Linked DNA regions of Homo sapiens. The protein of the gene in region 4 purifies or fractionates together with the protein of the main gene of each other region. This does not show direct contact. Each region holds a gene or a part of one and is shown on either strand. Other genes may lie near its edges. The genes, in order: PABPC1L, PUM2, PDCD11, PAIP2B, CASC3, SREK1 and ZC3H11A.

Region 1 (3,500 bases), on a different chromosome or scaffold from region 4:
GCTCATGCCTGTAATCCCAGCACTTTGGGAGGCCGAGGTGGGCATATCACTTGAGGTCAGGAGTTCGAGACCAGCCTGGACAACATGGTGCAACCCTGTCTCTATTAAAAATACAAAAAATTAGCCAGATGTGGTGGTGGGTGCCTGTAATCCCAGCTACTCAGGAGGCTGAGGCAGGGGAATTGCTTGAACCGAGGAGGCGGAGGTTGCGGTGAGCTGATATTGCACCACTGAACTCCATCCTGGGTGACAGAGTGAGACTCTGTGTCAAAAAAATAAAAACAGAAAAGAAAAAACAGATTTAAGAGGGAGAACGAAATGAACACAGGTTTCATCTATACTGCATACTGGCTTTTAATTGTCTTCCTAAGGCAATGGGCAAAAGGGTTAGATTCAAACCCCCATATCTGCATCCTTGTTTCTATCAGCAAACTAGAAACAACCGGGGTATTCATCAAGGGGGAGCCTCAATTGTACACCAGTCTACTGTATGTGCACAGTTGAAGAGAATGTGGTAGGTTACATGGCCTGACAGTCTTGTTAAGTGAAAAAAAAAATCCATTCAGGCTAAAGTAGGCATCTACACATTGGAAATTTTGAAAAAGACACATAAAATGTATTCATATTACTTTTGGGGACTAGGGCTGAAAGAAATGGAGTCTTGTTTTTCACTTTCTTCCCTTCCACATTGTTTAAACTTTGCCAATACATGAATTACTGCAACAACAGACTCATTTCAATTTTTTTTTTTTTTTTTTTTGAGATAGAGTTTCACTCTTGTTGCCCAGGCTGGAGTGCAATGGCACAATCTTGGCTCCCTGCAACCCCCGCCTCCCAGGTTCAAGCGATTCTCCTGCCTCAGACTCCCGAGTAGCTGAGATTACAGGTGCATGCCACCATGCCTGGCTAGTTTTTTGTATTTTTAGTAGAGATGGAGTTTCACCATGTTGGCTAGGCTGGTCCTGGACTCCTGACCTCAGGTGATCCACCCACCTGGGCCTCCCAAAGTGCTGGGATTAGGAGCATGAGCCACTGCACCCCGCCTCAATTTTTTTAAAGATGCACAATATCCTATTCCCATTCTGTAACCCTCCTGACTCAGGCCAGCAGGACAGAACTTGAGAACAAGGAAAGACCTTCTAGTTCACATAGCCCCCATCCCTCTTGTTGAACTCGCAGAAAGACCACTAACCCCCCACTTCAAGGTGACTGTGGCTCCACTCATCCCTGTGGCTACAGGCTCAGCTCAGCTAGTGGCATTTTCTGCCTGGATGACAAGCACTGCCTCCCAGCCTAGCTTGCACACTACCACTGTGATGCTCTTTCTAAAATGTAATTCTGACCACATCCCTTCAATCTCTAGTAGCTTCTATCCACAGAACTATATCAACTTGGCATTTGAGGCTCCCCAGTGGGTGTTGCACAACAGATCTTGCTTCCAAACCCATGCCTTGCACATACCCCTCCACCTCTCATCCTGAAACAGGGGCCTTCCACTTTCAACTCAAGCCTCAGCTTGGATTTAACCACGTTGACTGGGTCCCCACTGTGGGTCAAGAACCTGCTAAGGGCATTACATACTTCCCTTGTTATCTATGCCAGTCATAAGAGAATCCTTTCAGTCATTTCTTAACCTCTGAGCCCCAGAGGGAAAATGAGAATAAATGACTTGTCCAAGGTCAGCCAACAGAAGTAATTCTTTGATTGTTACAGTTATCACTTAGAAGCTTAACAGTATGCCAGGTACCCTTTTAAGGAGTATACATGTATGCAGAAAACCTAACACACAGAAAGTACATGATAAATCTGCCATTATTATTGTGAAGAACTTAATACACAGTTAAGAGTCTTTCTTCCTTTGATCCTCAAAGACAGGAAACAGCCCCGTCTCTCTGTCACAGATAACCCTTAGTGCATTACTACATCTCCTCAAGTCTACCTGCTCCTCTGAGCCACAGGGATAGCCTCTTATTGACTGGGAATTTGAGAGCCCTCGTTGAGAACTTAAGGATTATGCTTGGCACACAGTAGCACTTGATAAAAGTTCTGACATGCCAGGTGCAGTGGCTCACGCCTGTAATCCCAGCACTTTGGGAGACTGAGGCGGGCGGATCACAAGGTCAGGAGATCGAGACCATCCTGGCTAACACGGTGAAACCCCGTCTCTACTAAAAATACAAAAAAAATTAGCTGGGCGTGGTGGCGGGCACCTGTAGTCCCAGCTACTCAGGAGGCTGAGGCAGGAGAATGGCGTGAACCTGGGAGGAGGAGGTTGCAGTGAGCTGAGATCGCGCCACTGCACTCCAGCCTGGGCAACAGAGTGAGACTCCGTCTCAAAAAAAAAAAAAAAAAAAAGTTCTGACACATAGGCTACAAAAACTGTCCCCATCCTCCCTAGAATAGCAGACACTCCAAAGGCTACGGGGTAACTGATCAACTATCCTTATAAAATCTAGAGACAGAACACCCAGGTTTAAGCCCTCTGTTCCAGACATACTGACCTGCTATATGGCCGCTGATCCTCAACATCCTCATATAAAAAGTCAGAGAAATAATCAGAATCCTTCTCAAATGACATACCTCCACTGGCTCAACATATATTTATTGAGCACCTAATATGTTTCACATCTTATTCTAAGTATTGGGATACAATAATGACTAAGAACAAGATCACTGATGGAACTTACATCTAATGTAAGACAATCTTAAAAACAAGATTCAATAACTTAATTGCCTTGATGGCCCCAATTAATGGCCTTCCTGTAGCCACACCCTTCATCCTATAATTTCTACTCCCCTCTCACTCTGAATGTGGGCTGGTCTTGTGACTTGCTTTGGTCAATAGAATGTAGTGAAAGAGGCCAGGTGCGGTGGCTCATGGCTGTAATCCCAGCATTTTGGGAGGTCAGGAGTTCGAGACCAGCCTGGCCAACACAGTGAAACCCACCCTGTCTCCACTAAACATACAAAAATTATCCAGGCATGGTGGCTCGCACCTGTAATTCCAGCTACTCGGGAGGCTGAGGCAGGAGAATCGTTTGAACTCAGGAGGCTTGAACCCAGGAAGTTGCAGTAAGCTGAGATCATGCCACTGTACTCCAGCCTAGGCAACAGAGTAAGACTGCATCTCAATTAAAAAAAAAAAACGTAGTGGAAGTGATGGTTCCAGTTCTGCATTTAGTTCTCAAGAGGCCTGGTGTGCTTCCACTCTTGTCTTCTGAGCCCCTGCCATTGCCATGAGAATACCATGAGAATAGCCTGGACTAGCCTACTGGAGGACAAAAGGCCATAGGGAGGAAAGCCAAGATGTTCCAGCTGACAGCCAGTCGCTCCCTCATATACCCAGCGAGAGCTCCCACTCAGCTTTCAGTGGGCATAGGAGGGAACCCAGCCAAGACCAGAAGAACTGCCCAGCTGAACTTTGCCCATTGCCAACTGTGGAATTATTAGCTAAATAAATGATTGTTGTTGACGGCCACTAAATTTGAAGGTGGTTACAC
Region 2 (3,500 bases), about 51 Mb from region 4:
AACTAGCTAAATGAACTCGATCTCATTTGTCCATTTGCAAATGGAAACAACAATGCCTCCCTCATAGGGCTGTTGCAAAGATTAAGTGAGGTAATAAATGAAATTGAAATGCAAGTGCTTTCTAGAGTATTAATGACACATCAAACTGAACTTTTTGTTTATTTGTTTAAAAATCAATATAAAATTCTTTGGACTGGGCACAGTGGCTCATGCCTATAATCCCAACACTTTGGTTGGCCAAGGCAGGAGGATTACTTGAGTCCAGGAGTTCAAGACCAGCGTAGGCAACATAGCAGGGGCCACAGCTCTTACCTGCGCTCTGCACAGCCCCCCTCTCCCTGCCCCGCAAAAAAAGAAAATATTTTGACCCAGAAGTTTCTCTTTTGGAAATTTACCTTAAACAAACAGCACCAACACAAATGAATTAACTATATAAAGATATTTACTGCAGCACCACTTATATGGTGGTACAAAATTAAAAAAATAAGCCAAACTCAACAACAGAAAAAAGTTAAAACAATGAGCCAGTACAAAAATTACAAGTAATTAAAGTTACATGTAAAATGTCCATGATATTAAGTAAAAATACAAAGTTGCCTAATGTGTATCATATGATCCAATTTTTGTTCAAAAAAGGAGGGGGGCAATGTATGACTACATATGTTTGTGGGAAGTACGAAAAAATAAACATCTCACTCAACTTTGGTAAAGAAGGTACTGTTGGCTTTATCTTTGTATTTCTTCATATTGTAAGACTTACTGAGGTTAGCAAAATAAATTTCTTAATGTCCTATATAAATATAGCTTAACTGCATTACAGTTTGGAAACTATCAAAGTACAAAAGTTATTGTGTTACTTTTTGTTCCTATTAGTACTAGGCTGAAAGTCCAACAAATGAAGACTTGTCTCACATGGCTATCTTAGTAATTTTCAATTGTTACATGCTATCAATTAGAATTAATACCTCACCAAGGAAAAACAACTTAAGAAATGTTAACTAGAGGCCTAGCATGGTTGCTCACGCCTGTAATCCCAGCACTTTGGGAGGCTGAGACAGGTGGATCACTTGCGGTCATGAGTTCGAGACCAGGGTGGCCAACATGGTGAAAGGCCGTCTCTACTAAAATATAAAAATTAGCCAGGTGTGGTGGCAGGCGCCTGTGATCCCAGCTACTAGGGAGGCTGAGGCAGGAGAATCGCTTAAACCCAGGAGGTGGTGGTTGCATGGAGCGGAGATTGCGCCACTACACTCCAGCCTGGGCAACAGAGTGAGACTCTGTCTCAAAAAAAAAAAAAAAAGAAAGAAAAAGAAATGTTAACTAAATTGTAACAGAGAACTAAAGGAAGAAATCTGAATGCATGGTCTGAGACAACTGGAGAAAAATAACAATTTTAAGAAGCAGACTTTAATGCAGTATATTTGGAATTTTCCTAAGTGTGCTCCTTATTCACCAACTCAGTGTTCTCAGAAATAAGTGATCCCTTGTCCAATACATTTCAGGTATGCTGCTCAGTAGCACCCACTTGCTCCTTTGCAAGCTCTGAGTACATGTTCAATCTTTCCTTCCTTCTGTTACTGGCTCCAAGAAATTCTACAATTAAAACTGTTTAACCTTAACCCAGTATTACCATAACTTTTCTGTAAATGTTAACACAAATACATTTTATGTAGTGTTTCTAGTCATTTCCAAGACAACTTAAAGAAAAATGAATGTGAGGTATGAAATATATTCAATTTTCTCATAAGACTGGGTAGAATAGAGATTTAATTTTTGTCTAGGAAAACCCTAACTTACGGTTAAAAGCTTTAAAATATATTTAGCTTATTATGACTTATGAATAGTCTAAGAAATATATATGAATTGTATAAATCTTTGAAGTAAAAGGAATCATTTAGGTGATTAGCATGAATTGCGGTTTTTAAAGTTCCTCAAGTAATCAAGAACAAGCTTTGAATTGGTTAACTTTAAAGTGAGATGAAATGACCAAGCCAATTTCCTAAAGATACTTAAGTTTTAAAAAGGCAAGTTATTACATCAAAAACACCACCAAACATCTAGGTAGAAATGTATGGAGAGAAACCAAATCTGTGTTAGTTTCAAGGATTAAGTATTAAATCATATATATATTTATAGACAGGGTCTTACTCTGTCACCCAGGCTAGAGTGCGGTGGTGCCTTCACAGCCTCCAAACCTGGGCTCAAGCAATCCTCCTGCCTCAACCTCTAGGGTTACAGTAGTGCCACACTATGCCCAGCTAAATTATATATTTTTAAAAGAGTCTGTGTTTAAAAAAAAATTGAGTATAATTTAAATAAACTTACTTTATTCACTTAAGCAAATGTTTGGAAGACGGCAGACTATCTTAAAGGAAATATACAATAAAACAAACAAAAAAATTAGCTGGGTGTACTGGTACATGCCTGTGGTCCCAGCTACTCAAGAGGCTGAGGTGGAAGGATCACTAGAGCGAGGGAGGTGAAGGCTGCAGTGAGTCATGTTCACACCACTCCACTCCAGCCTGGGTGACACCACTGCACTCCAGCCTGGATGACAGAGACCCTGCCTCAAATTAAAAAAAAGTTTCTAAATAAAAATAACTAAGTAATTTATTAAATAAAATAGCAAATAAACTAGTAAGTTTAAAGCTAACCAGTTGTGCTAGTAATTGTACAAACAGTAGGTATGTACAATTCTCATTAGCCAGAGAAAGAAATCATACCAAACCCTTGGATGCAACCTTATTCCTAACACTAAGCTTTAAAAGAAATTTCTGTTGGGCATGGTGGCTTGGACCTATAATCCCAGCACTTTAGGAGGCCAAGACAGGAGGATTGCTTTAGTCCAGGAATTCGAGACCACATGGGGCAACAAATTCGAGACTAGCCAAGGCAACATAGTGAGACCTTGTCTCTACAAATAATAACAAAATAACTAGTTGGGTATGATGTTGTGCGCCTGTAATGCCAGCTCCTCAGGAGGCTGAAGTCAGAGAACTGCTTGAGACTGGGCAGTTGAGGCTGCAGTGAGCAGTGACTGCACCACTGCACTCCAGCCCCAGCAACACGATGAGACACCCGCCCTCATCCCAGTATCAGAGAAAAAAAAAGCAATTTCTTAGATGGAGCATTATTGAGGCAACAGAGTTGTAATAGAAAATATCTTCAACATTACCATTAACAGATACAAGGTTTCATAGTATCATTTTACTTTATTTTATTTTACTTTATTTTATTTTTTGAGACAGGGCCTCACTCTGTTGCCCATGCTGCAGTGCAGTGGCTCGATCTTGGCTCACTGCAATCTCTACCTCTTGGGATCAAGAGATCCTCGCGCCTCAGCCTCCCAGGTAGCTGGGACTACAGACGCGAGCCACCATGCCCAGCTAATTTTTGCATTTCTTATTGAGATGGGGTTTCACCACGTTGCCCAGGCTGGTCTCAAATGCCTGAGCTCAAGCAGTCCACCTGCCACGGCCTCCCAAAGCGTTAGGCGCCCA
Region 3 (2,584 bases), on a different chromosome or scaffold from region 4:
CTGAGGGGCAGAGAATCAACAGGCAGCAAGAGGAAAGCCCTCACAAGGCTCTCCTGACTTAGAAGAAGCAATGCCACAGCCAGTTCCTACTCCCCGATCCTGGAGTGCTCATGGGCTCAGGAGCTGGGAATGAGCACTCACGCTCCTTGCTAGGCAGGCACTCCAGGGCTCGCTGCAGCACGCGGTGACTGGCTGCAGCCTGGCTCCTCCGCAGAAGGAAGGCGCCGTATTTGATCCACACAGCTTTCTCCTGCCGGAAACGCTTCAGCATCCGGTTGTAGAGTTCACCAGCTTCCTGTGGGAAAAGACGAGGCACGCTGAGGAGAGTGTGATACTACAGAGGGGACAAGACAGACAAGCAGCAACACTCACAAGAAGCTAGACCTGGGCTCCCAGACACCAAATCACTCTCAGGGCCTAATGCTAGAGACCTGAGAGGAGCGGGAGGGAGGCTCACAGAAGGGCACCGTGAACAGGCACAACACGACGGAGGGGATTCCCTGCTGATCCGCACCCATGGGAGGGCGGTCCTAGCCTAGAACATGAGAATGACAAGGGGGAGTAGGAGAGACGCCAGAGCGGATGCTGGGCCGGGACGTCCCCTTCTGTCTGTGATGCCCTGCCAGCAGCCCAAGGCAGACACACCAGGGGTCCACTGCCCCTTCACTTCCAAAGCCACTCCTTCCCTCACCTTGACCCCACAGGCCTGAAGAAGAGGTGAGGGAAATGACTTCTTTTACTTGGAAGATAGGGAAGTTGGGGCCCCGATGTTGGGTGGCAAGCTCACAGCAGGACTGGACCCAGCACCCCAGGGGCTCTTCTCTGAGATTGTGGCCCTGGAACTCCCAGGAGTTCGTCTGTGGCCCAACCTCCTACCTGGAATTTCTCTGACTTGGCGTAGATGTCAGCCAGGTGGAGAAAGACTTTGAGAGGCTCGTTGTACTGCACGGCTCGCTCAAAGACCTTGGTCAGGGACTCCTGAGAGCCGTACATGTTCTCCAGGTTCAGCAGAGCCACCCACACGTTCAGCTTCTCCTGCTCCTCTCTGGAGGGAGAGCAGTCAGCACATGAGCGCCACATGAAACCAGTGAGCCTCCCGCCCCATCCAGACAGACTCAGGAACCACCTCCCCCTCCCAGCCTCTATCTGTGTCCTCAGATCCCACCCCAAATGTAGACCCTAAGAGGCTGTGTCCCCACAGCTCCTGCAGCATTAGAAACCCCTGCCCCAACCCCAATGGCTGAGTCTGAGGCTCTCCTGGATTCTGCCTCCATTCCTAGAAAGGATGCCCACCAGATCCCAAACGGGCCTGAGGTTTGGGCTGGACGCAGAGTCCTGGGTCTGATTCTCTCTTCAAGCTAAGAGGATGAAGCAAAGGACTGCCTTCCCTCTTCATTAGGCCTCAAAAACTCCCTCTGTTTGGAAAACCACCACAGGGATTTCGCCCAGGTATGTAGTGAGTTCTTTTCTTACTGTGTTTCTGCTCAAACTGGTTCCCTCATATAAGTGTATGGACTCTTGTGAAGGTTACCCTTAGCAGTTTCAGGGAAGAAGACTATAAAATATAAATGAGTAGATCTATTTCACAGATGGCCGCAGCTATGGCAGAAAGCCTGAGGACCCATGGGCCCCTGGTGGCAGCCACCCAAAATGCTGCCGGCCTGCCTAGGAGGAGCTACCCCACAGGTTGAGAAACTTCCCAGCCCAGAACGTGCGAAGACACTGTGCTCCCTGGGGCAAAGCTGAGACCTGAAGGAGATGGTCTTAAGGGCCCTCTCAGCCACGGCACGGGCCTTCTCGATCTCCGTGGCCTGCAGGTGGAAAGCCATGTACTGCAGCCACAGAATGGAGCTGTTGGGGGAGCTCAGCACCAGTCGGTCAAAATCATCCGCGGACTCTGGCTGCCGCCCAGGATCCATCAGCGCCTCCTCAATGCGGGACAGTTCCTTCTCTGCCTTCTGCTTCTCCAACTCCCTTTCTTTCTTGCTTTTCTTTATCTGCTATGGAAAGCAGAAACACCGTGAGTCATCTGCTCCTCAAGGCCTAGGGGAGGTCTGTGGTGGAAGTCACGAGTTGGCTGGGCAGCCCAGGGCTCTATATATACCCCCTGGCCTGGGACTGGCCGCTGCCCCCTCCCCCACTCACCCAGGAAGACACCCAGTCTAGGAACAGAGCACAAGAGACTGACACCAAGGGGTCCCTGCAAAAAGGACATGCCCTGCAAAATACAGCACCGTGGCTTGGTGTGGCTTCTCATCCTCCTCGCTGTCTGAGCTCTCTGCTAGAGGTGGCAAGGCCGGGGTCAGAGAGTCTAGTCCCACATTCCAAGCGAAGCCTGAAGACAGCTGCAGCCGGGGCGCTTCTGCTGGCTTGGTTTGCTTCTCCTGGAGGAACACAGAGGCGCTAAAGAAAGCACCTGGCTCAGGCTGCTCCCTGTTCCCCCGTGCCAGCCCACCTGGAGGAGCATGGACTCCTACCAAGCCCAGAGACCCCTCCTCTCCTCTCCTCTCCTCCTAGGCCATGCCAGGCCCCAGCCCACTGGGGAAACTTTATAGCAGTGACATAAAAGTTTTCTTTGTAAATA
Region 4 (3,500 bases):
TATATTTGTATAGTGCTCCAGAGTGCTCAAATATCACTTCGTTTTTAAAAAATATTTGTTTATTTTTTCAAATATAGAGACAGGGTCTTGCTCTGTTGACCAGGCTGGTCTTGAACTCCTGGATTCTCCCACCTCTGCCTCCCAAAGTGCTGGTATTACAGGCGTGAGCCATCATCACACCCGGCCAGCTTCATTTGAGAAATCTTTCCCCAGCACTCCATATATTACTAATTATTCCTTTCTTCTTGTTTAGATAGCATTTTTGTTATACCTCTATTACCTCACTTGTCACATGATAATCAGCTGCTCACCCATCTGTCTCCCTTGATTGCTCATGAGCTCCTTGAGAAGAAGTCTCATTTTCAGGACCTTGAACAGTGTGCAACACATGTATGCTTCACAGGCAGAGAAGAAGTAAATGATTTCACTACAGTGTAATCATTCCCAGAATTCAATTACCTGTATTTCTAAATTGTTCTAGACACTCTGCCAACAACCTGAGAATGTTATACTCTTTCCCTAAAACTTCCATCCATTACTGAGTATCTATGGTCATAGCTAACTCAATTGTGACATGCCCTCTGGCCAAGCCCATTCATAGTTTTTCCTCTAGATGATTTTTAATTTTTGTTTTTATTTGTTCTTTGTATTTTTAATACAAACAGCACATAAGTAAACTTCACCATCTCTATATCTCTGTGCCTTTGCACCTGCTAGTCTCGGTTTGGAATGATGTCTGAAGGTTTTATTCACCTGGAAAGCATTCCTACTCACCCTTAAAGATATCAGCTTAAATAATACCTTCTCTGGGAAGCCTTTCTATCCTCCCATTCTCTCAGGAAGAGTTCAGAATTTCTACAGTTGAAACTGTAGACCCTGCCCTCACAGAGCTCACGGTCTAGTATGAAAAACAGCCATATGAACAAATAACCACACTATAATACTAAATGCAATACCAAAAGGGAGATGTATTGAATATTTGACATGTGTCAATTACCTTGTTAGATTCTTTATTAATAATTATCTATGATTATATTAGGTAAGTATTTGAATTGGACAAAAGGCCATGAAACTCTAGAACTGTTATACTCTCAATCGTCTTCTAAAGAAACTCTCCAAAGGGTTCTTTTAAAATATGCTATAGTCATACTGAGAGGTGAGGACAGCTGGATTTCCTGGGTCGAGTGGGGACTTGGGGAACTTTCCTCTTACAAGAGGATTGTAAAATGCACCAGTCAGCGCTCTGCAAAATGCGCCAATCAGCGCTCTGTAAAATGCACCAATCAGCAGGACCCTAAAAGTAGCCAATCGCAGGGAGGATTGAAAAAAGGGCACTCTTGATAGCCCAGAAACGGAACATGGGAGGGGACAAATAAGGGAATAAAAGCTGGCCACCTGAGCCCACAGCAGCAACCTGCTGGGGTCCCCTTCCAGGCTGTGGAAGCTTTGTTCTTTCACTCTTCACAATATACCTTGCTACCGCTCACTCTTTGGGTCCGTACCATCTTTAAGAGCTGTAACACTCACCACGAAGGTCTGGGGCTCCATTCTTGAAGTCAGTGAGACCGTGAACCCACAGGCAGGAACCAACTCCAGACACAATACAACTATTGTGTGACTGTGGCATACACAAAAAAGCATATCTGTAGCATATCTGTGTGACTGGTAATGCATAAAACCAACCTTACTTCTGTGGCCACAAGTGACTGGACCAGGGCTCAGTGCTTCAGCTGAGGACGGCATATAGGCTGAACTTCAGGGAGATCAATCACCAAGGACATGATGGCACAGCTCAAAATTCTCTCTAGTAGGGGCCTTCTGTTTTTAGAAGGTGACAGACTAATCCAATCAGATATTCTCTCTTGGAAAATACAAATGTTGAGTGAACAAAGCAAAAGAGGGCAGGTCTTCAGAGCTCAAATACTAAATACTGCTAAATTAATGTTCTGTGAAGTTTTGAAAGTACTAGGGCCAAGAGACAATATGGCTGCTTAGATGACTTTCCATCCAAGTTTACATTCAGCCCTCATCACCAAAGCTGATATGTGTGTGCCTCTTTCTTGCAACCCACCAGGGACTAACACATCATATACCACTTTTGGAATTAGGAAACAGGCTCAGAAGTCCAAGAGCTTGACCAAAGGAACTCAGTTGGTAGGTAGCAGAACCAGAATTCAAAGACCCAGGTCAGCATGATTCTTCTATAATATCCTGCCACTTACATGGGCAAGTGGCCTCAAAATCAACAAAAGACAAGTAGAGGTTGACATGTGACAATGGAGAGAGGCTCAAAAGGAAGTTTGTACACAAAAATACAAAAGGAAATGTTCTGGAAGTATGTCTGGGGATGTGAAGTAGGAGCAGGCACACCAGGTTTACCTTGGTCAAGTGAATCTATAATTCCAACCTGGGCCTTTCCCCAGAGCTCCTGACTTAGCTCTTATCTGTCTTTCTTAGGCAAATATAAAATCCACAGGGCAGGACCTTAATCTCCAGCTTGTTCACCACAGATTAAAGCAGAGTTTGAGGCTGGATGCAGAGGCTCACGCCTGTAATCCCAGCACTCGGGGAGGCCAAGATGGGTGGATTCCCTGAGGTCAGAATATCGAGACCAGCCTGGCCAACATGGTGAAACCCTGTTTCTACTAAAAATACAAAAATTCGTTGGGTGTGGTGGTGTGAGCCTATAATCCCAGCTACTTGGAGTCTGAGGCAGGAGGATTGCTTGACCCAGGATGCAGAGGTTGCAGTGAGCTGAAATCGTGCCATTGCACTCCAGCCTGGGTGACAAGAGCGAAACTCCATCTCAAAAACAAACAAACAAACAAAAACACAGACTTTTTTTTTTTTTTTGAAATGGAGTCTCACTCTGTCACCCAGGCTGGAGTGCAGTGGCACGATTCGGCTCACTGCAACCTCCACCTCTTGGGTTCAATAAATTCTCTGCCTCAGCCTCCTGAATAGCTGGGACTACAGGCTCCTGCCACCATGCCTGGCTAATTTTTTTGTATTTTTAGTAGAGACAGGGTTCCACCATCCTGGACAGGTTGGTATTGAACTCCTGACCTCGTGATCCACCTGCCTCAGCCTCCCAAAGTGCTGGGATTACAGGCATGAACCACCACGCTCAGCCGAGTCTGACTTATGGTAAGTGCTTAATATATGATAAATGAACAAACTGAATGAATGAATATATGATAACTGAATAAATTTATGAATAAATGTACAAACTATCAAATAAGCTAAAGAAATAGTCCACATTGTTGGGGAAAGGGGTTACCATGAAACAGACCCTAGCAGTCACTTACAAATACAGTTCATCTTCATTATTTGTGGATCCCATATTTGCAAATTTGCTTACTTGCTAAAATGTCTTTGTAATCCCCAAATACTTGTGGAGCTTTCAAGGTGACTTATGGATATACACATAGTAGTGAAAAATATGTCACTCCTTGCCCAAGTCCCAAGGTGACCCTCAGCCTTGTCTCAGCCCTCATACA
Region 5 (3,500 bases), on a different chromosome or scaffold from region 4:
TCAATGAACACTCCATATTGCCTGTCAGTTTCTCCAACGTTTCCATTCTCTAGTGACTACAGACGGTCCCTGATGTATGATGGTTCAACTTATAATTTTGACTTTATGGTGGTATGAAAGCCATAAACATTCAGTAGAAACTGTACTTCTCAGCTGGGTGCAGTGGCTCACCACACATGTAATCCCAGCACTTTGGGAGGCCAAGGTGGGAGGATCCCTTGAGTCCAGTTCAAGATCAGCCTGGGCAACACAGAGTGACCTCATCTCTATTAAAAATATTTTTAAAAAAATAAAAAAGAGGCCAGGCACTGTGGCTCATGCCTGTAATCCCAGCACTTTGGGAGGCCGAGGCAGGCGGATCACCAGGTCAAGAGTTCAAGACCAGCCTGTCCAACATGATGAAACCCCGTCTCTACTAAAAATACAAAAAAAATCAGCCAGGCATGGTGGCGTGCGCCTGTAATCCCAGCTACTTGGGAGGCTGAGGCACGAGAATCGCTTGAACCCGGGAGGCAGAGGTTGCAGTGAGCTGAGATCACGCCACTGCAGACAGAGTGAGACAGAGTGAGACTCTGTCTTAAAAAAAGAAAAAAAAAAAAAAAAAGAAATCGTACTTCTCGAGATGCTGGATAGCAACAGAGAGTTGCTGCTCCAAGTTAGCCAAGAAGTTATCTTGAACTTCTGAACTTATGATGGGTTTACCAGGATGGGATGTAACTACACCATAAATCAAAAAGCATCTGTACTGCAGCAAATATTCCCCATCCCAAAACCACTTCTAACTCTGAATTCTGTCCACTTCTATTTTCACTATCACCACTCTATTCCATGCCACACTCACTACTTAACTAGATTCCTACAATAGCTTTCTTAACTAGCTTTTCTGTCTCTGATCTTGTTTCTCTTCACTGTGGACAAAATAACTGCTATAAAAGAATCCTCAAATTTTACAGTACATAGCATCAACCTGGGATATTCTTTAATACATAAATGTCTGAGTCTCCAATGCCCCTCCCAAGAGTCTGTTTCAGTAGAGAATGGCTAATTGGATTTTCTGATGCAAGTGTTCTCTGGATCTGAAAAACACATCTTTAAAATTTAAATCAGACAAAGCATAGTGGCTCATGCTTGTAATCCCAGCACTTTGAAAAACCAAGACCGGCAGATCACTTGAGGTCAGGAGTTCGAGACCAGCCTTGCCAACATGGTGAAACCCCATCTCTACTAAAAATTAAAAAAACAAACAAACAAAAAACAGTAAATAAAAATTTTTAAAAAATGAATAAATAAATCCAATCGCATCACTTTTTTTTTTTGACACAGGGTCTTGCTCTGTTGCCCAGGCTGGAGTACAGTGATACAATCTTGATTCACTGCAACCTTCACTTCCCAGGCTCAAGCAATCCTCCCACCTCACCAATTAGTGGCCCCTGCTCACCAATTTGTCTTTATTTCTAATACCTATCCTGTCCCAACAATGCTCCAGTCACACCTAATTACTCCCAAGTTCCCAAACGCTCTCTATCTTCTCTATCTGGGCTTTTTCTCTTTTTAAAAAAATTTTGGGCCAGGCGCAGTAGCTCACGCCTGTAATCCCAGCACTTTGGGAGGCCGAGGTGGGTGGATCACGACGTCAAGAGATGGAGACCATCCTGGCCAACATGGTGGAACCCCGTCTCTACTAAAAATACAAAAATTAGCTGAGCGTGGTGGTGCACACCTGTAGTCCCAGCTACTCGGGAGGCTGAGGCAGGAGAAATCACTTGAACCAGGCGGGGCGGAGGCTGCAGTGAGCCGAGATTGCACCACCGCACTCCAGCCTGGCAACGGAATGAGACTCCGTCTTAAAAAACAAAACAAAACAAAACAAAAAAAATGGGGGGCACGGTGGCTCATGCCTGTAATCCCAGCACCTTGGGAGGCCGAGGTGGGTGGGTCACCTGAGGTCAGGAGTTCGAGACCAGCTTGACCAACATGGTGAAACCCCATCTCTACTAAAAACACAAAAATTAGGCGGGCGTGGTGGCATGCGCCTATAATCCCAGCTACTCGGGAGGCTGAGGCAGGAGAATCGCTTGAACCCAGGAGGCAGAGGTTGCAGTGAGCTGAGATCGAGCCATTGCACTCCAGCCTGGGTAACAGAGCAATACTCCATCTCAATAAAAAAAAAAAAAACTTAATTTTTTTTTTTTTTTGGCTGGGTATGGTGGCTCATGCTTGTAATCTCAGCACTTCAGGAGGTCAAGGCAGGAGGACTGGTTGAACCCAGCAGTTTGAGGTTGCAGTGAGCTGTGACCCCACAACTGCACTCCAGCCTGGGTGACTGGGCAACAGAGTGAGACCCTGCCTCTTTTTTAAAAAAAAAAAAAAAAAAAAAAGAGGGCTGGGCACAGTGGCTCACACCCGTAATCCACCTGTAATCCCGGTACTTTGGGAAGCTGAGGCGGACGGATCACCTGAGTTCACGAGTTCATGACCAGCCTGGCCAACATGGTAAAACCCCGTCTCTACTACAAATACAAAAATTAGCTGGGTGTGGTGGTGTGCACCTGTAATCCCAGCTACTTGGGAAGCTGAGACAGGAGAATCGCTTGAACCCGGGAGGTGGAGGTTGCAGCGAGCTAAGATCATGCCACTGCACTCTTGCCTGGGTTACAGAGCAAGACTCCATCTCAAGCAAAAAAAAAAAAAGAAAAAGAAAGTTTTTAATTTTTGTTGAGTACACAGTAGGTATATATTTATGTAGTACATGAGTTTTGTTTTTGTTTTTGTTTTTTGAGACAGAGTTTCCCTCTTGTTGCCCAGGATGAAGTGCAATGGCACAATCTTGGCTCACTGCAACCTCCACCTCCTGGGTTCAAGTGATTCTCCTGCCTCAGCCTCCTGAGTCGCTGGGATTACAGGCACCTGCCACCACGCCTACTTAATTTTTCTTATTTTCAGTAGAGACTGAAAATGGGTTTCGCCATGTTGGCCAGGCTAGTCTCGAACTCCTGACCGCAGGTGATTCACCCGCCTCGGCCTCCCAAAGTGCTGGGATTACAGGTGTGAGCCACCAAGCCCGGCCCATGAGATATTTTTATATAGATATACAATGTGTAATAATCATGTAAGGGTAAATGGGGTATGGATCGCCTCAAGCATTTATCCTTTGTTACAAACAATTCAATTACGTTCTTTTATTAATATATATATATACTTTTTTTTTGAGATGGAGTCTTGCCCTGTCACCAGGCTGGAGTGCAGTGGCTTGATTTCGGCTCACTGCAACCTCTGCCTCCCGGATTCAAGCGATTCTCCTGCCTCAGCCTCCTGAGTAGCTGGGACTACAGGGGCGTGCAAGCACGCCCAGCTAATTTTTGTATTTTTAGTAGAGACGAGATTTCACCATGTTGGCCAGGATGGTCTCAATCTCTTGACCTTGTTATCCACCCACCTCAGCCTCCCGAAGTGCTGGGATTACAGGCATGAGCCACTGTGCCCAGCCAATAGTTATTTTT
Region 6 (3,500 bases), on a different chromosome or scaffold from region 4:
GTAGAGTTTTGGAAATAACTTCAGATCTTTGTAGTTTGACAATTTTTTTTTTCTTTTTTGAGACACAGTCTCACTCTCTTGCCCAGGCTGGAGTGCAGTGGTGTGATCTCGGCTCACTGCAAACTCTGCCTCCCGGGTTCAAGCAATTCTTGTGCCTCAGCCTCCCAAGTAGCTGGGATTACAGGTGTGTGGCACCACACCCAGCTAATTTTTGTATTTTTAGTAGAGATGGGGTTTCATCATGTTGGCTAGACTGGTCTCAAACTCCTGACATCAGGTGATCTGCCTGCCTCTGCCTCCCATAGTGCTAGGATTACAGGCATGAGCCACCCTGCCTGGCTGACAAAATATTTTTTAGACTAAATTCGTGGGGGTGGGAACTTTACTCATTGTGGTTATTCACTCTGGGATGAAGTTGATGAGTCCCAGCCATCTTTTGAATGTTGCCAGTCGTTGTGGTGGAGGAAAAGAGTCAAACAGTGGTTCTCAGAGCTTCTTCAGAATAGTGACACATGTCAGTTCTGCTCATATTTAACTGACCAAAGCAGGTTACATGGCCACACCTAACTTAAAGGAACAGAAAAATGGAATTTTATTGTGTACCTAGAAAGAGCTTTGGAAGTAGTTGGTGGGCAGTGCTTAGGATGGTCACACTAGTGACTCCTAGGTTTCGGACTTGGGTAGTATGATATCTTTTACTGAAATATGGAATGCAGGGGACAGAGGGCAAGACTGGTAAGGAAGGAGGTTGATGAATGTATTTTCAACTTACTTAGTGACCATCAAGGTGTAATATTCCAGCAGGCACTTGTACCTGGGAGTCTAGAGCTCACAAGAGGCCTGAATTGGTGATTTGGTCATGTAAAGGTGGTGAGTTAAGTCTGGATGTGCATACAGTTAACCTCAGTGTCAGTACACAAGTTGCTTTGACTTAGGTGTTGGGTTGGGTAAGGAGGGATTTTTGTTGAGGGCTGATGTGAATCCTGAATTGGATGCCCTTAGGCAGAAGTGAGTTGGATGCTAAGAGGTACATCCTTTTTTTTTTTTTTTTTTTTTTTTTTTTTGAGAAGGAGTCTCGCTCTGTTGCCTAGGCTGGAGTGCAGTGGCGCAATCTCGGCTCACTGCAAGCTCCGCCTCCCGGGTTCACGCCACTCTCCTGCCTCAGCCTCCTGAGTAGCTGGGACTACAGGCGCCCGCCACCACGCCTGGAGAATTTTTTGTATTTTTAGTAGAGACGGGGTTTCACCGTGTTAGCCAGGATAGTCTCGATCTCCTGACCTCGTGATCCGCCCGCCTTCCGCCTTGGCCTCCCAGAGTGCTGGGATTACAGGCGTGAGCCACTGCGCCCGGCGGTACATCTTTTATTTTCAACTTTAATTAGCCTTACTAATTGTGTTAATAATGTAAATAGTTTTAAGTTCTAAATGCAGATTCATTTTATTATCACATTGTTTGGTTAATAGCATAAATATATATAAATTTAACCGTTATTAATGTGGTTATTCTACGTTGTTTAAAGATGGTTTTGTTCCTGGACGTGAAGAATTACAAAGAAATCTGGATTTTTGGATTTTAAAAACGGCTAATGTTTGTGGAATTGCTAATTTAATAGTATGTCAGAATGGTTTAAAGATTCTTGATTAGTTGAATGATTACAGTTGCATGAAGTTTGGAATTAGATGATTAGACATTAGATGTTAACTTTGCGATTTACTAGTTCTGGAATTGTAGTCAGTTTTCTTTCCTGTTTTGTAAACAAAAGTAAATGACTATTAAGTCATATATTTTTCAAGTGATCTCTCTTTTTTTAGTGTGAAAAATCTTAAATGTTTCAAATAGATTTTAATATAAAATCTATGTTACAGATTACGTATGTACTTAGTTCGGTCTTTTTTTTCCTGCTAAAGACAATTACAGATTTTAATGAAAAGTAATTATGGATAGGCTGACAAAATGATTATCCATGAGGATAGTATATTTTCGAATCTAACAGGATGTATTCATTTTAGGAAAAGTTCCTTTCATTTGTGCTTTGTCTGGTTCATTTTTAGTATCGGCCTGCCTGGATTAAACTGAATCAAGTAGGACCAGTTAGAGTCTTTGTTGCCTATAAAATATGTAAGATTTTGTTTGTAAAATCTTTTGTCTGGAAAATCATCACTGTCCAGCTCTGGTGTATGCAAAATACCTCAATTTAAATTCCATACTACCTGACTCTTTCTAAGACTGTTGTGAAGTTTTTTAGTGATGTAAATGCTTGGGAAACACATTTAGGAAGAGTTGGAATGATGATAAAATTTGAAATCTTGAGGTTTGGAGCTTTTATAAAGGGATTTTTGCTTACATATGATACACTTTTTGAGTTAATTTTTGGGTTAAATTAGCTTTTTTTACATTCACTCGGATTAAGGATTGATTAATTTGAGTTCCAAGTTTTACAAGTAAGGCAGTAGGCCTGCCTGGATTGCCTTCTGTTGTGGTAGACAAATCACCATTAAATGACTAAGTTTCACTGTTTTATGTGTTAATGATCCTTAATAACAAAAAGTTTTAAAGTCTTAATTTCGTAAGATTATGTAAAGGTTAAGAAAGAAATTTTAAGTGAAAATGATAAAACCAAGCAAATGTTTATTAGTTCAATTGTTTTTCTTTTTATCTTGCAGCAACGCACCTCTTGCTTTTTCCTCCAAAGTATGTTATGTTAAGTTTCGTGATCCATCAAGTGTTGGCGTGGCCCAGCATCTAACTAACACGGTTTTTATTGACAGAGCTCTGATAGTTGTTCCTTGTGCAGAAGGTTGGTATCTCGCTTTTTTTCCTCTTATTTGAATTTCTGTCCTGTCTGTTATTGCCTTTAGCTTTCCTAGAGATTGGCAAGTAGACAGTACTCTTGGTGTGTGTGTGAAAGTAAGAATGAAATTTGGAGGAGGTAAACCTTTTTACCTAATAGTAATATTAAAATGGTTAATTTATGACATGTACATTTGAGGTTTTACAATTTAACATTCATTGGCTTCTGGTTTGCTTTGGCTTTCTGTAGTCAATTTGCAGATTGCAAAGAAAGCTTTCTGAAATTAAAAAATAATTGATATGGGAAATTATTTTAAATGCATAAACAAGCATTTACCTTGTGTGTTCAATATTAATACTATTACAAATGAAAATAGTGTACACATTTTGGCAAATTGGGGTTAAGTGATATTTATAAGAAAATATTTGTAATTTATACTTTCAAGTACACTCTTAAGGTAATTTACCTTAATTGTTACTATGAGATCATTATTTTATATTCAATGTAATTGTTTGCTTTGCAACTGGAATTTAATGTTTTCTTTTACTGGCCCCAAAAAGGGGCAGGAGGAGTGTTGGAAAAAAAGGAAAGCAATTTTCCAAAGCCTCCATGAAGGAAGTAGTTGTTGAAGATAGGAACAAAGGCCTTAAAGTATCCATTAAATTTTATGACCTAAACTGCTTTAAGAACTAATTATTACTAATATTTT
Region 7 (3,500 bases), on a different chromosome or scaffold from region 4:
CTGAAAATTCAAATAGAAATTTTATGAGGAACGGGAGCCTTTTCATCTTTGTATTTTATCTGTACATAGCAGGCATTTATTTTTGAATAAATGATCAACAGAAACTAAGTATAGGTAAGTATGCGTGTAGCATGGGAAAAAGAAGAGGGAGGTCAATGATTGTGAACTAAATTTCAAAGGTAGTTTCAACAGTGCTATAAGAGGCACCAATCTAGCCTCTTCTTACCTTGCTTTATATTGACTGCAGGTTTCCGGACAGAAGTCACTCGTAATCCATTGTGAACTTCAGGAGTTGGTTGCAGGGTAGGTGTTTTGGTTTCATCACCTTCCTCAGAAAACTGATCTATATATCAACATTTAAGGCAAATTCACAATTAAAAATACGCCTATAGCTTTAATCCTGATTCTGCCCAATTCACTATGAGACCCTATTTATTTGCCTTAAAGAAGGAGCCAGACAGAACTTACCATCATCATCTTCATCATCATCTGCAGCATTAATTACAACTGGTGGATGCGTGGGGCTAGGAACATTTTCGGAACTTTCTACTTTCATAACGCTCCGCAGCTGAGGGGAAGGATTGGACTGGACAGACAATTTGTTCTGCTGAACTGAAAGTTGGCTAGCCTTCACTTCCTCTTCTGGTGACTCAGGCACAGTGGGCAACACAGCTAAACGCACAAAATCAGTCATAAATTAAAAACAGAAGATACAACCCCAACTTACCAAAAATTCCTGACCACCTATGAAAACTATAGTGTATTTGTCTTATGAGCATTTATACTAAATTTCCTCATTTAAGTTCTAAAGTCCCAGGGAGGGAAAAGATGTGCTTTTACCTAATTAACTCTCCACTAACTCTCCACTGTACATAAACACAAAGTGGGCACTCAAAACAGAATCAACAGAAGACTAGAAGAAGCATAGTACCTGTTCACAAATTCTAGACCTTTAATTTTAATACTGCAATTCTAGGCTTTTTGCTCAGCAAAGAAGTAGCTTCTAAGACCCAAGCATATGACACTTACTTGAACCAAACCAGAAAGGAATAAGTCTACTTTTTTCCCTTAAATTGAGGTAAAAAGATGTAGCCATCAAATTTTAATCACGTAGCAACTGTGGCTTTTAAATGGCCAATTCCACTTTTAAATTACTTTAAAATGAACTTTGGGAATAACCACTAGCTTTTTAGTTTTATTTTAGATTATAGTCTAGAGTAGGGTTGGCAAATATTTTCTGTAAAGAGCCAGTTAATAATTTAGGCTTTGTGGGCCATATGGTTTCTGTCTCAACTACTCAATTCTATAGCACTAGCACAAAACTGATAATAGAAAATATGTAAATGAATGGGCAAGGCTATATTCCAATAAAACTTATTTTACAAAACAGGCAGAGGACCAGTTTTGCCAACCTTTGACCTAGAAAATCAAATTTATTTTGAAAACGTTTATGGGTCTGATAAGAATATGAGAAATGAAGTAAGTATAATAACTTAAATGGCATGCCAAGATATATAATGGTTCTAAGGCCAAGGATAAATCATTTAACCTTAATAAGATTCAGTTCACTTATCTGTAAAGTGGAAATAATTCTGCTGTTTCACAAGACTGAAAGGAGTCAATGTCTGAAAAGTACTGTTGTACAGTGTGCATAATAGGTGTTCATTTGATATTCTTTTAAAATTAAAAACTGATCTCACTTTTGCTCGGAGGTAGGAAAAGGCCATCAACATATCGTCCTCTATTGTGATGGAAAGCGCAGTTTAATTTTTGACATCCTGTTGGCTGATTTTCCCAATAACAAGGAATTTCACTGCGTTTTTTCTGTAAGAGGGAAAAACACATTGCTTTCAAATAAAACAGTGATACGTATATTCATGTGGCAGTTTGTTTTCTAGACAAAGTTCATACAGGGTTCAAAAATCCGAGGCATGTGAGATGAGATGATTTTTAGAAGGAAGAGAGATTGCTGAAAATAACATAACTTAGGCATGATGGAGAGCTGAATGGAGCAGGAGAGTAGTTTATGTTATTCTTTCCCTTTTTACCCTCATCCTGGAACCCCTAAAATGTCTACACTTAATTTAGAGAAGCAGGATGATACAGTAGTTTAAGTTTATGAAATCAAAGATAACGGTCTGAATCTCTATTATGTTACTTATTGGCCAGGTGGCCTTGGATAATTCATGCCTCTAAGCCTCACTTTCCTTAGCTATAAAACGGGAATAAATGGTTTCTTATGAAGAGTACATAAAATAATGTATATAAAGCACTAAGCACATAGGTCAAACTCAATAAACTGCAGTTATTACTTGAAGCTGAGAGTTCAAGGGTTTGAGAAAATTCTTCCCATTCATGAATTCTCAAAGTAAGGCACCTATAACAACACACTAAGGATGTTAGGTATCCTTCCCAAGTCACCTTACTTTTTTTTTTTTTTTGAGACAGAGTCTTGCTCTGTCACCCAGGCTGGAGTGCAGTGGCGCGATCTCCGCTCACTGCAAGCTCCGCCTCCCGGGTTCACGCCATTCTCCTGCCTCAGCCTCCAGAGTAGCTGGGACTACAGGTGCCTGCCACCACACTCGGCTAATTTTTTTTGTATTTTTAGTAGATAAGAGGTTTTACCATGTTAGCCAGGATGGTCTTGATCTCCTGACCTCGTGATCCGCCCGCCTCAGCCTCCCAAAGTGCTGGGATTACAGGTGTGAGCCACCGCACCCGGCCAGTCACCTTACTTTTATAAAGGAAAATTGGGAGAAAAAAAAAAAAAAAGAATACCTGTGCATCTAGAATAGAATAAACTGCTGAATCATAGGATGTATGTCCTAGAAAAATATATACATTAGTTCTCCAACAGCTGTGTATAAGCAATGTTCACAGCAATATTATTTTCAATAGCTCTATAATTTTGCAAACCCATGTGTACATCAATACTAGAATGGATAAAGAAACTGTAAAGTATTCGTACAACAGAATATCATCTAGTAATGAGAAGGAATAAACCATTGCTATACTCAATGCCACAGATGTGAAATGAAAGAAGCCAGACACAAGAGTGCATACTATACCATTCCATTTATGAAAAGATGAAAACAGTCAAAACTTCTCCATGGTAGAGTAGTTGGGATGCTGATCAGCTTTGGGGATGTGGTTAGTAACAAGGGGATGAAGGGGAAGATAGATTACTGCTAATACTCTATTTCTTGAACTAGGTGCTGATCAAGTAAGTATAATCACTCTATGAAAATTCTTCAAGTTGTAAGATTACGATTTTGCACTTTTCTAGATACATTTTAATAGTTCAAAAAAGGGGGAAAAAAGATATGAGAAGTACTCCCAAAAACTAACTAACCTCCGATGAACTGCATTATGTCGAATCTCTAATCATCATAAACAGCCTATGGTTTAAAATTCCAGGAAAAAACACCAGCATTGAAATTTAAGAATATGGAGAAGAGAGACAGAGAAACAATAACCATTACAAAAAGATGCTTAAATGT

What was found.
Region 1: the proteins of PAIP2B (region 4) and PABPC1L purify together in Homo sapiens (affinity purification with mass spectrometry; one large-scale study listed by BioGRID and IntAct). This does not show direct contact.
Region 2: the proteins of PAIP2B (region 4) and PUM2 purify together in Homo sapiens (affinity purification with mass spectrometry; one large-scale study listed by BioGRID and IntAct). This does not show direct contact.
Region 3: the proteins of PAIP2B (region 4) and PDCD11 purify together in Homo sapiens (affinity purification with mass spectrometry; one large-scale study listed by BioGRID and IntAct). This does not show direct contact.
Region 5: the proteins of PAIP2B (region 4) and CASC3 purify together in Homo sapiens (co-immunoprecipitation; 2 studies listed by BioGRID and IntAct, with this or other methods). This does not show direct contact.
Region 6: the proteins of PAIP2B (region 4) and SREK1 purify together in Homo sapiens (affinity purification with mass spectrometry; one large-scale study listed by BioGRID and IntAct). This does not show direct contact.
Region 7: the proteins of PAIP2B (region 4) and ZC3H11A purify together in Homo sapiens (affinity purification with mass spectrometry; one large-scale study listed by BioGRID and IntAct). This does not show direct contact.

Annotation. Positions count from the first base shown.
Region 1 is NC_000020.11:44,913,060-44,916,559, reverse strand, and holds part of PABPC1L (polyadenylate-binding protein 1-like), read right to left. Parts: intron 1-3,500. UniProt on the Homo sapiens protein: Poly(A)-binding protein involved in oocyte maturation and early embryo development. It is required for cytosolic mRNA polyadenylation and translational activation of maternally stored mRNA in oocytes.
Region 2 is NC_000002.12:20,340,845-20,344,344, forward strand, and holds part of PUM2 (pumilio homolog 2), read right to left. Parts: intron 1-3,500. UniProt on the Homo sapiens protein: Sequence-specific RNA-binding protein that acts as a post-transcriptional repressor by binding the 3'-UTR of mRNA targets.
Region 3 is NC_000010.11:103,441,626-103,444,209, reverse strand, and holds part of PDCD11 (protein RRP5 homolog), read right to left. Parts: intron 2,385-2,584; coding exon 2,235-2,384; intron 2,001-2,234; coding exon of another isoform or gene 1,998-2,000; coding exon 1,750-1,997; intron 1,046-1,749; coding exon 877-1,045; intron 296-876; coding exon 142-295; intron 1-141. UniProt on the Homo sapiens protein: Essential for the generation of mature 18S rRNA, specifically necessary for cleavages at sites A0, 1 and 2 of the 47S precursor. Directly interacts with U3 snoRNA. Involved in the biogenesis of rRNA.
Region 4 is NC_000002.12:71,220,604-71,224,103, forward strand, and holds part of PAIP2B (polyadenylate-binding protein-interacting protein 2B), read right to left. Parts: intron 1-3,500. UniProt on the Homo sapiens protein: Inhibits translation of capped and polyadenylated mRNAs by displacing PABPC1 from the poly(A) tail.
Region 5 is NC_000017.11:40,143,537-40,147,036, reverse strand, and holds part of CASC3 (protein CASC3), read right to left. Parts: intron 1-3,500. UniProt on the Homo sapiens protein: Required for pre-mRNA splicing as component of the spliceosome. Core component of the splicing-dependent multiprotein exon junction complex (EJC) deposited at splice junctions on mRNAs.
Region 6 is NC_000005.10:66,150,800-66,154,299, forward strand, and holds part of SREK1 (splicing regulatory glutamine/lysine-rich protein 1), read left to right. Parts: intron 1-2,663; coding exon 2,664-2,797; exon of another isoform or gene 2,798-3,500. UniProt on the Homo sapiens protein: Participates in the regulation of alternative splicing by modulating the activity of other splice facors. Inhibits the splicing activity of SFRS1, SFRS2 and SFRS6. Augments the splicing activity of SFRS3.
Region 7 is NC_000001.11:203,826,623-203,830,122, reverse strand, and holds part of ZC3H11A (zinc finger CCCH domain-containing protein 11A), read right to left. Parts: intron 1,825-3,500; coding exon 1,701-1,824; intron 673-1,700; coding exon 469-672; intron 344-468; coding exon 227-343; intron 1-226. UniProt on the Homo sapiens protein: Through its association with TREX complex components, may participate in the export and post-transcriptional coordination of selected mRNA transcripts, including those required to maintain the metabolic processes in embryonic cells.